Homo sapiens: one gene and its partners. The gene in region 2 interacts genetically with the main gene of each other region. Each region holds a gene or a part of one and is shown on either strand. Other genes may lie near its edges. The genes, in order: ACTR10, POLN and MRPL22.

What was found.
Region 1: changes in POLN (region 2) and ACTR10 together harm fitness more than expected from each alone (negative genetic interaction), as found in Homo sapiens cells (one large-scale study listed by BioGRID).
Region 3: changes in POLN (region 2) and MRPL22 together harm fitness more than expected from each alone (negative genetic interaction), as found in Homo sapiens cells (one large-scale study listed by BioGRID).

The regions. Positions count from the first base shown.
Region 1 is NC_000014.9:58,213,573-58,217,308, reverse strand, and holds part of ACTR10 (actin-related protein 10), read right to left. Parts: intron 3,679-3,736; coding exon 3,611-3,678; intron 2,105-3,610; coding exon 2,025-2,104; intron 1-2,024. UniProt on the Homo sapiens protein: Part of the dynactin complex that activates the molecular motor dynein for ultra-processive transport along microtubules.
Region 2 is NC_000004.12:2,232,122-2,235,621, forward strand, and holds part of POLN (DNA polymerase nu), read right to left. Parts: intron 40-3,500; coding exon of another isoform or gene 1-39. Other genes in the region: HAUS3 (HAUS augmin-like complex subunit 3), read right to left, coding at 1-39. UniProt on the Homo sapiens protein: DNA polymerase with very low fidelity that catalyzes considerable misincorporation by inserting dTTP opposite a G template, and dGTP opposite a T template. Is the least accurate of the DNA polymerase A family (i.e. POLG, POLN and POLQ).
Region 3 is NC_000005.10:154,947,414-154,951,149, reverse strand, and holds part of MRPL22 (large ribosomal subunit protein uL22m), read right to left. Parts: intron 330-3,736; coding exon 212-329; intron 1-211.

The DNA of each region.
Region 1 (3,736 bases), on a different chromosome or scaffold from region 2:
TGCATGGCTATCACAGACTCAGATTGTGAGTATTAAAAGGAAAGGTTAGAATCAGTACAAGGTTGACTAGAAAAAGAATATCCAAGAATGTATCGTTTATAATTTTATGGAAATATTATTGGGTTTAAAGACCTTTACAAAGAACATCTTGGGATGCTACACTGAATTTATTATCTTTGAAGACCTTTTATAAATTACCTGTCACCAAAATATACTAAGACATCACAAAGTTATCTGGAATTTGAAAGCTATAATTGGATCTACAGAATGAAAAATGCTATTAACTTAACTATCAATAGGGAACAACAGGAAAACATAGGTATGCCTAAGTGTCGCAAAAATCTCGCTTTCCAACATATATTCAATGCCCTAGCACTATACTAGGTGCTGCAGATTGAAAAATAAATAAGACAGGGATCCTCAAAGTCTCCTGGGGGAAACAAGTGAGTTAAGAGGCAAATGAGAATGTGTCATATGTGCTATAATAAATTACTGCCAAGGGCTTAACAGAGAGGAGCAATTTATTCTGCTTAGGGAAGATGAGGAAGGCTTCACCATTAAGATGACATTCCAGCTGAGTCATGCAGAGGGATCAAAAACCAAACTAGGCAAAGAAAAACATCCCAGGGAAAGAAAAAGAATAAATGAAGGCACAGGGCTGTGCTAGGACTCACGGTGCCTCGACAACTGTAAGAAATTTACTGTAGCTTTAATAAGGAGCAAAGGATAAAGTTTAGTGACCTAAGGATAAGAGGTAGAACAAACTCAGATTTTGAAGAAACATTTATATCCAACAGATAATTTGGATTTTAACCTGTAGGAGCTTACAAAAATTCTCAAGCAAAAGAGCAATGTATTTATATTTATTTTGTGAAAAATTGGCTGGGCACAGTGGCTCAGGCTGTAATCCCAGCATTTTGGGAGGCGGGGGCTGGTGGATTGCTTGAGCTCAGGAGTTCGAGACCAGCCTAGGCGACATGGCAAAACCCCATCTCTACAAAATGTACCCCCCAAAAATTAGCTGGGTGTGGTGGCTTGCGCCTGTAGTCCCAGCTACTCAGGAGGCTGAGAATGGAGGATGGCTTGAGCCTAGGAGGTGGAGACTGCAGTGAGCCAAGATCGCGCCACTGCCCTCCAGTCTGGGCAACAGAGTGAGATCCTGTCTCAAAAACATAAAAATATTTGTGGAAAGTTATTCCTGGCAACAGTGTGAAACAGACCGAATCCATCCAGAGTAGACTTCTGTAATAATCTAAGAAATGAGGGCCTAGATTAAAACAATGTCTTTGCTCTCGGGTGTTCAATGGTGTGGAAGGTTAAAAAAAAAAAAAAAAAGAAAGAAAGAAAAATGAGATCTGAAAGAGATTTCTGAAGAATTGAAAGGCTAACTTCCAGTTTTGTAAAACGGGAGACAAGGAAAATATTACCTTTATCTAATAATTGAAATGAATTTGAGGAAAGACATAATGTATTCACTTTTGGAAATCTTAAGTTTGAGGTGCCTAGAGACATGCACAGTCTCTAATAATCAGTTGGAAATATGAATATCAAGTTCAGAAGAAGGATCAGGCCCAGTGACACATTTCAGAATCAACAGCATGCAGATGTAGAAGTTGTGGGAGTAGATAAGATCACAGTTAAAAAGCCAGTAGAGAAAAAGAAGGAACAAACACTAGATCCCTAGTCGAATACAAGTAGAGAAAGCAAGAGCAGAGGAAACCAGAGGAATATTTGGGGAAATAATAGACAACCACTAAAAAAAAGAATCCTGAAAGCCAAGGAGAAGAAAGCATTCAAGAGTACATGATGATCCACAATGTCAAAAGTTCTGGAAAGGATGACTAAAATCAAACTATTGAATTTAGTGATTAAAAGTTCAATGGTGAGCTTATAGTTGAAGCAGTACCATCAGAGTGGCATGGGGAGAAAAGAGAATAATCATGCAATGGAGCAAAGACTAAAATACAAGTTGAAGAACAAAAAGAGAGTGTAAACCACTCCTAAACCACTTAAAATGAATTTACCCATCACTGAGGGAAGGCTCTGTTCTTTAGCAACACTTGTGTCAACAGTACATTGTTCCAATAGTTGAGTTTCCAACTCTCTGAAATTAAAAAAAAAAAGTTACTGGAATGAAAATATTGAAACTGATATCCTTATTTGATACTTTCAACTACATAATAGATTATTATGATTTTTTTTTTGGAGACAGTCTTACTCTGTTGCCCAGGCTGGAGTGAAGTGGCGCAATCCCAGTTCACTGCAACATTCACCTCCTAGGTTCATGTGATTCTCCTGCCTCAGCCTCTCGAGTAGCTGGGATTACAGGTGCCCGCCACCATGCCCGGCTAAGTTTTGTATTTTTAGTAGAGATAGGGTTTTGCCATGTTGGCCAGGCTGGTCTTGAACTCCTGACCTCAGGTGATCCATCTGCCTTGGCCTCCCAGAGTGCTGGGATTACAGGTGTGAGCCACCACACCCAGCCCGATTATTATGATTTAAATAAAAATGATCTTCCTGCCAGGCACGGTGGCTCACGCCTGTAATCCCAGCACTCTGGGAGGCTGAAGCGGGTGGATCACCTGAGGTCAGGAGTTTGAGAACAGCCTGGCCAACATGGCAAAACTCTATCTCTACTAAAAATACCAAAATTAGCCAGGCGTGGCGGCGCACGCCTGTAGTCCCAGCTACTCGGGAGGCTGAGGTAGGAGAATCGCTTGAAACCAGGCAGCGGAGGTTGCGGTGAGCCGAGATCATGCCTCTGCACTCCAGCCTGGGTGACAGAGCGAGACTCCATTTCAATAATAATAATAATAATAATAAAGGTCTTCCCCATGACATAAGTTTACCTATGTAATAAACCTGCACTTGTATCTCTAAACTTAATAAAAGTTAAAAAAAAAAAGAAAAAAATGTGGTACATATACACAATGGAATACTATTCAGCTATAAAAAAGAATGAGATCCAGTCATTTGCAACAACATTGATGGAACTGGAGATCATTATGTTAAGTGAAATAAGCCATGCATAGAAAGACCAATATTATATGTGCTCAGTTATTTGTGGGATCTAAACAGCAAAACAATGTAACTCATGGACATAGAGAGTAGAAAGATGGCTACCAGAGGCCAGGGAGGATAGTGGAGGGATACAAGGGAGGTGAGGATAATTAATGGGTACAAAAAAATAGAAACAGTAAGACCTACTATTTAATAGCACCACAGGGTGACTGTAGACAATAATAACTTAATTGTACATTTTAAAATCATGTAAAGAGTATAACTGGATTGTTTGTAACTCAAAGGATAAATGCTTGACGAGATGGATACCCCATTCTCTATGATGTGCTTATTTCTCATTGCATGCCTGTATCAAAACATCCCAGGTACCTCATAAATATATACACCTACTATGTACCCCCAAAAATTAAAAATTTAAAAAACTGGTTTATTCTTAAAAAATGAATATACTCGAAGCTAATAGAGGGCGGAATGAATAAAATTCACTGTCCGTATCACAAGCCCTCTATTGATCACTGATCAACAAACAGATTAGCAACTGTTTTTGTGGCACAGGTGAAATGAATATGTTAAATTCCAAGAAACTTACTTGTGAAGAGCTTTTCCTCCTAGGGGTAGTGCTCCCCAACAATTTAGAACTGGGATTCCTTCATATATCTATAGAGTAGTCAAGGATACTACTATTTTAGGAGATAAAATGTGGTTTCCTTGATAT
Region 2 (3,500 bases):
CAGTTGAGATTCAACTTTATGAAACTGCTCTGTTAACTCCTAAAAAAGGAAAATAAAAATAAAAATTAAAACACTTTATTCCTAATACCAATTATAAAATTAAAATATAATTTACATGGAAAGACTTTAAAGGACTTAATAACTTCCCGCAATTTTAGCAATAAATAAACCTCGATTTAAAATCCATAACAGGTTTAATATAAATTCTAAGTAAGATTAATTGCAACAACTTCTGATAGATAATTTTAAGTGATTCAAAGGAAACTCTTGCTGAAGTGTACTCGATATGTAAGCTGTTCTGTGCATTCATATATTCAACAAATGCTATTGTGCCAAGTACTGTTTTAGAGATTACTGATACAAGAATAAACAAAATCTCCCTGATGGAGCTTATATTCTGCTTAATAAATCAAACCTTGTTTTAGCCTATTCTCTGTTTATTCTGGACAGAAGGTACAGAGAAAGTTGAAATGAAGACCAATAAAAGAGAATTAGCTCAACACAAATCTCCATTTTTCATTTTTTCATATTGTCTTACCAAATAGAATTACACATGACATTCCACGAAAACCATCCTAATCATATAATTTTCCTGCTCAAGAATCTAGCCATGCCGACCCTTCATATTTATTACAGTAAATTCAAATTCCTCAGTGTCTAGCATTTAAACCAGATTATTAACAAGTTTCCATAGCTTTCTAATCAAGCATTCTACTTATAAATTTTAGCCAGTATCACCAAAGAGGTTCTCAGAAAAATCTGTTGCTCTAACTACCCTCAATTTTCCACAGCTTCTAGGCATAGTCCACAAGTATCATAATTATCTGAGGTACTTGTTATGAATACAGATTCCTGTACCCCCCCACTAGACTAAATTACTTAATCTCTGTACAGAGCTAGGAACCTGCGTTTTGATACGCTCCCTGATGATTCTAATGTACAAGTTCAAGAATGACTACTTAAGACCTGTCATAAATGCCAATTCACAGAGGAGTACTTCTTAAAATACATACTTTTGAAAATCAAGTAATTTCGACATTATATCTACATTTAGTGATATCCTCTAAGACAAACTTGGTAAACTTGAATATACTGAGAAACAACAATCTCATCTTTACCTTCAATTAAATACTAAAGATCATACAGTTGCTAAAACAACATTGCTACAGATACTGAAGTTCAGCTTCATTAATAATAGAAACACAAGTTAAAATTGATACGGCATTTTATATCACATTGAGCTAGGGAAAAACACTAATGATACCCACTGATAAGATTAGAGTGAGATTACCATATTTTAGTGATTCTTGGATGCATTTTTTTTTCACATTTTAACATATCTGAAATGAAGATGCATCTTAATCAAGAACATCATATGATTGTTTCTGGCCAGGTACTCTTAAGAAATACTTTCTCATCAACATTCCTGATACACAGTGTGGAAAATTACAGACAACTCTGAGTCAAAAAATAACAGAAGAATTGAACATTGAAATGTGATGCTTTAGAACTACCCTAACCATTTAAATTGACTTATTTTTTTCCTTTTAACATATGCCCAAGAGTGGTATGATAAAAATCTATGTCTACCTACATCTAAAAAGATCTTTTCTAGTAAGTATGAAAAACAAAAATTCTTAATAAGAAAACATTGTGTTGGTTTAACTAAGAGTTTTTCTTTTTTGGCAATTCATAAAATGATGGCGTGCCATATGGTCAATGGTGTCTAGTAGACACTTATATAGTGCTGGTAGCATTATAAACTCCTTTAAAAAGCAATCTGGCCATATCAAAGGCAAAAAAAAGTGTATATACCACCCTGGCACAAAAAACCCCAATGACCCTATTTCCAAGAATGTATCCAGATGAAAGTATCCAACAACAAAAAGCTATATACACAAAGATACATATGATATTGTTCAAGAGCAAACAAAAGAAAAAAAAGAAGACTATCAAAATACCCAGTAACAATAACCAGCTACAAAATTGATGGCACAGTAATTAAATCAAGACAGTATAGTTAACATTAAAAGTTAAGAAAACTATTTAGAGAGTAAAAATGTTTATTTCATCATGCTAAGTAAAAACAAAACTATGGTCTTTGCTGAGGGTCTTTAGAAGTTAGCACCATGGCAGAAGACATGAAGGTCAAAATTAAGAACTACAGGACTGTCCCATTTGACAGCCACTTTGTCAACTAGAACCAGAACATGAACTGCTGGCAAAACTACCTGGACTTCTACCACTCCAAGACGGCAATGACTGCTAAAGGGGGTGATGTCTCTGTGTGCAAATGGTACTGGCATGTGTGCAAGTCCCTCTGCCCCATATCCTTGGTCTTGACCTGGGACAAAGGCACGTTTCCTGGGAAAATCAGAACTGGCTCCACCCCACCTTTCCTCTGTTCTCCATCCTTCTCCCAGGGTGGTAAACGGGGACCTGGGTACATGATGATCCCTACCCTGGGTCCGTGAATCAGGACTTAACTAATAACAAAAACTTACTGGAAAAGTGTAAAGAAAAGAAAACTATATGCCTTACATTACTAAGCAAAAGAAAAATGGCAAAGGAATATTAATATTAGACAAAACAATATCAAGAGAAAAAGCATCACCAGGAATAGTCATTATGTAATGCTAAATGCTTTGATTCACTGCAATTTAAAACGACCAGGATAATTATTCACTGCAACTTTAAACCTGGATATAACTTATAAAATAGACTCAAAATACATAGAGAAAAAAATGATATACAACTACATGGAGAAATTTTCTTCTTTTTTGACACCAAGTCTTGCTCTGTCGCCCAGGCTGGAGTGCAGTGGCGCGATCTTGACTCACTGCAAACTTTGCCTCCCGGGTTCAAGGGATTCTCCTGTGTCAGCCTCCCAAGTAGCTGGGATTACAGTCACCCGCCACCACGCCCGGCTAATTTTTGTATTTTTAGTAGAGATGGGGTTTCACCACCTTGGCCAGGCTGGTCTTGAACTCCTGACCTTGTGATCCACCCGCCTCAGCCTCCCAAAGTGCTGGGATTATAGGCGTGAGCCACCGCACCCAGCCTATGTGGAGAAATTTTCAAATCCACCATCGCAGTGGAAATTTTTAAATCCACCATCGCAGTGGAAATTTTTACACAATTCTCAATAGATCAAGAAGACAAAAATCAGTAATGGGAGACCTTTCAAAAAACAAATCACAGATACCACTTCACACCCGTTGGGATGGCTACTGTTTTAAAAACCACAGGAAATAACAAGTGTTGGCAAAGATGTGGAGAAACTGGAATTGTGCAGCTGTGAGACATATAAGACCATCATAGCAGTATGATCTATAGTAACAAAAACTGTAAATAACCTAAATGTCTGTCAATCTAACAGATAATTTCATTGTGGAATATCATATAATGGAATACTAACTATACAAAAGAGAAAACTATGAATGAACTATATAGCTTTACGTGTATCAACATGAGTGAGTCTCAAAAACATATTAAGCCAT
Region 3 (3,736 bases), on a different chromosome or scaffold from region 2:
AAGGTCCCTATCCAGGAGGTTAAGTAAAGACAAATAAGTAAAGAATAACAATCTTTTTCAACTATTGAAGAGATAAATCTAGTACATCTTCTCTGTCAATTAGAGTGAATGGTTGTATAATTTTTTTAACACAGAATAATAAATCATTACTAATCACTTAAGAGTAAGAGCACTACCACAATTAAGAGATTAGTTCTACCCACGAACTTACTGCTGGTCTCCGAGGTTCTCCAGGCAGTTGTGGAGGATAAACAATTTTATTCTTCTTCTCCCATTTTCGAGAAATGTCAAGAGAAGCACTTGTGTGGATATATGATTGAGGTAAAACACTGTGAAATGAAAGAAGCCTATAAAACAACAGACACTTAGGGGACCTTTCTGTAGAGTTTACATATCTTTTGAACCACTTCAGCTCCATTTTGATGAAAACAATTTAAGGATCACAACTGGAAATATTCTAGAGGTATTCATTAATAGAGACTACTTTTAAACACAACAAAGAGACAGTTTATTAGAGGCTAACAGGAGAGAAAGTAAACGCACATAAGTCAAACCGTTAATAGATATTAACCCAAGATTTCTTGCCCTGACTGGCCAATAACACTGTCTTCTATAAGTCACCCACTCCTAAGAAAGATTTAGAGAAGACATAATGAGCTCTCTGATCTGACCTGTAAGATTGCCCAACTTTGTTGAGTAACTAAGACAAAAACACAAAACAATTAGAAGACAATATAAAACCACATAACTAAAATATGGGAAACAGCAGAGGATTTCAGAGGTGACTTCAGGTGAATCTTGAACTTCCTAATTGATATGGCTCGGCTCTGTGTCCCACCCAAATCTCATCTTCAATTGTAATCCATACATGTTGAGGGAGGGACCTGGTGGGAGGTGATTAGATCGCTGGGCAGTTTCCCCCATGCTGTTCTCGTGATAGTGAGGGAGTTCTCATGAGATCTGATGGTTTAAAAGTGGCAGTTTCCCTGCACTGTCTCTCTCTCCTGCTGCCTTGTGAAAAAGTTGCCTGCTTCCCCTTCACCTTCCCCTATGATTCTAAGTCTCCTGAGGCATCCCCAGCCACGCAGAACTGTGAGTCAATCAAACCTTGTTGGTTTATGAGTTACCCAGTCTCAGGTAGTATCTTTATAGCAGTGTGAAATGGACTAATACACTAATTATCAGAGGAATGGGGCAACGACATATATCATCTATGCAGAGGTACAGAGTTGAGAAATAAGGGGAGGTCTGACTGAGTCAGAGAATTTGTTAAGTATTGGAAAGGTCATTGAGGCTAGAGTGGTTGTCTTTGAATGCTAAACTAATAGGCTGAGACTTGATGATGAAGATCCCAAATTCACTATTCCTTGACCTCTTCCCCCACACTTTAACTGCTTTAATAATATACAACTAGTCATTCTCCCTCTCCCATTTTCCCCAGCATCCGCTACTCCCCTATATCACTAAATAAAATCACTCTTGAATGGTGTTCTAGAGTTTATCTTCAACTTCCCAATGATTTTCATCCTGCCAGAGCTAGTCACCAAATCTTACAGATAAAATAAAGATTCCCCTGAAATCGTTCTCAAATGCTTTACCTCTTCCCCATTCTAATTGCCACCATCCTATATAGCAATAGCCTCTAGATTGATTTCTCTTCCATCAACTTGCCCAATTCCAATCCATCTTTCTCTGCTTGAGTACCAAATGAGCTACCCTTCTATAATTCAGAGCTACTCATGTCATCCTCCAGCTTAAAAACGTCTATTGAAATAAGCAAATGAATAGTTATGTAATATTCTAATGCTATCCTTTTTTTTCAGTGTCACTGACTACTGGGATTCTTGGTATGGAAATAAGCAGAAAAGGTTCAGCCAAAATCCAATAAGTACTAGATCTCTCCACTGAAGAGGTGTAGAAGCAATGAACAATCTAGTAGCAATTAGTGCCCCTACTTCCCAGATTACGGTCTTGAAATACCATTTCCTATTGAAGAGAACCAAAACTTCTGAGAGAAATGGCTGATTGCAGATCTCAAGCAGATAACATACAAAATGAGCCCAGAACATCTTGTCATATCAGAAAGCAAAGAAGCCATCAAAGATTACCAAGGTCATGTCAAAGGCACTCAGGAGCCAACTTGTGGATGCCCAACAAGCCAAAGATGGGACAAGCCAAGCATTAATCAGGACAATAATTGTAGTGGGTTGAAACACATCAAATATGTTTAAAGCCATAAGTTCATAATAAAACCAGGAAAAATACAAATTAATTACCATTAGAAAATGCTAGTGAGCCAACTTGTTATTTTGAAAACTGGTGAATGAAGAGAAAGAATGAAGAAAAAGACAAGACTTATCCTGTCTTTCCTATACAAACTGTACCATTAAGTTTCCAAGTAGTAGATGAGGAAAAATTTGACTTGTATAAAGTTAGTAATGAAGGAATAGCAAATTATTATAGCATCATCTTATAATCCTTAATAAACTAATGGATAAAGGAGGCATTATGTGCCTCCTTATGGAAGAACACACCACCCACCATCCACAAAGTAGTCTTTCCTGCCCAAAATGAAACTGGGGGCTCAAGCCCCTAGATTCAAAATAGGAAACACAGAGAAAAGACAACATGTTACGTAATATCATGGGGATGCACTCGGTAAAATCCAAGGTATAGAAAACGCTACAAAACAACCAATTGTCTCCAACAAATAAATTACAAGAAAAAAAAGAGAGGGTTGAATAAAAAACCTACAGAGTAAGAGATTTAACAGAAATATCAATTAGTTTCAATGTGTGAACTATTATAAAGTATGACAGTTACGAAGCCATTGGAAGTTTAAATATCAAATGGATATTTAATGCTTTTTAATGAGATAATAGTAAAATATTTATGAAAATGATACAGTGGGGGGAGTGTTTCAAAATATGATGAGGGAGAGTACAGGTTATAAATAACATTGGCCATAAGTAGTAAGTGTTGAAGTTGGGTGACGGATACATGGAGGTTCATCAAACTGTCTACTTTTGTATATGTCTGGGCATATCCAAATAAAAAGTTAACACAGCAAACTTTGGTATTTCCCTACTGCCCACAATACGAAGTCCAGACTCTTTAGCGAGACATAGAAGGCCTTTCATAATCTAGACCCAATCTGCCCTTATAGCCTAGCCACATAGATGTTCATTGTTCCCTGAACAAGCCTTTATTCAAATTGTTTTCTCGTCTTATTATCTCCTGAATGAAATGCTTATCCTGTTTTAAGTTCTAGCTCAAATGTCACCTCAATGTGAAACATCACCTAATCCCTTATCTGATCATGATTCTCGCGTTGTCTTAATACTTTGTTCTTGCCAGCCATACAGCAATGACTTAGACCACTGTACTATCGTAAGTGGCTATAATAGAATGAGTTATTGTACTAAGTGTACAGATGTTGAGCATTTAAAGGGCAAGTCCGACTTTCTTTGTATTCTAGCACCAAGAACAATGTCTGGTACGTGGATACTGCGTAAACATTTAACTCAGACTTATATACTCAAAGTGGTTGTATATTGGCATATTCTCATACAAATATGCAACTTGGATGATTTACTTGGCAAACAAAACCTTTGTTTTTAGTCTTCAAGCCATTTAGACCAAAGACTCAAACAAATCTATTCTAGTGTATCATTTTTACCCCAAGTTCACTATCTCCTATCCTAATATCAAGATTAGTGCCATCAAAATACCTAAC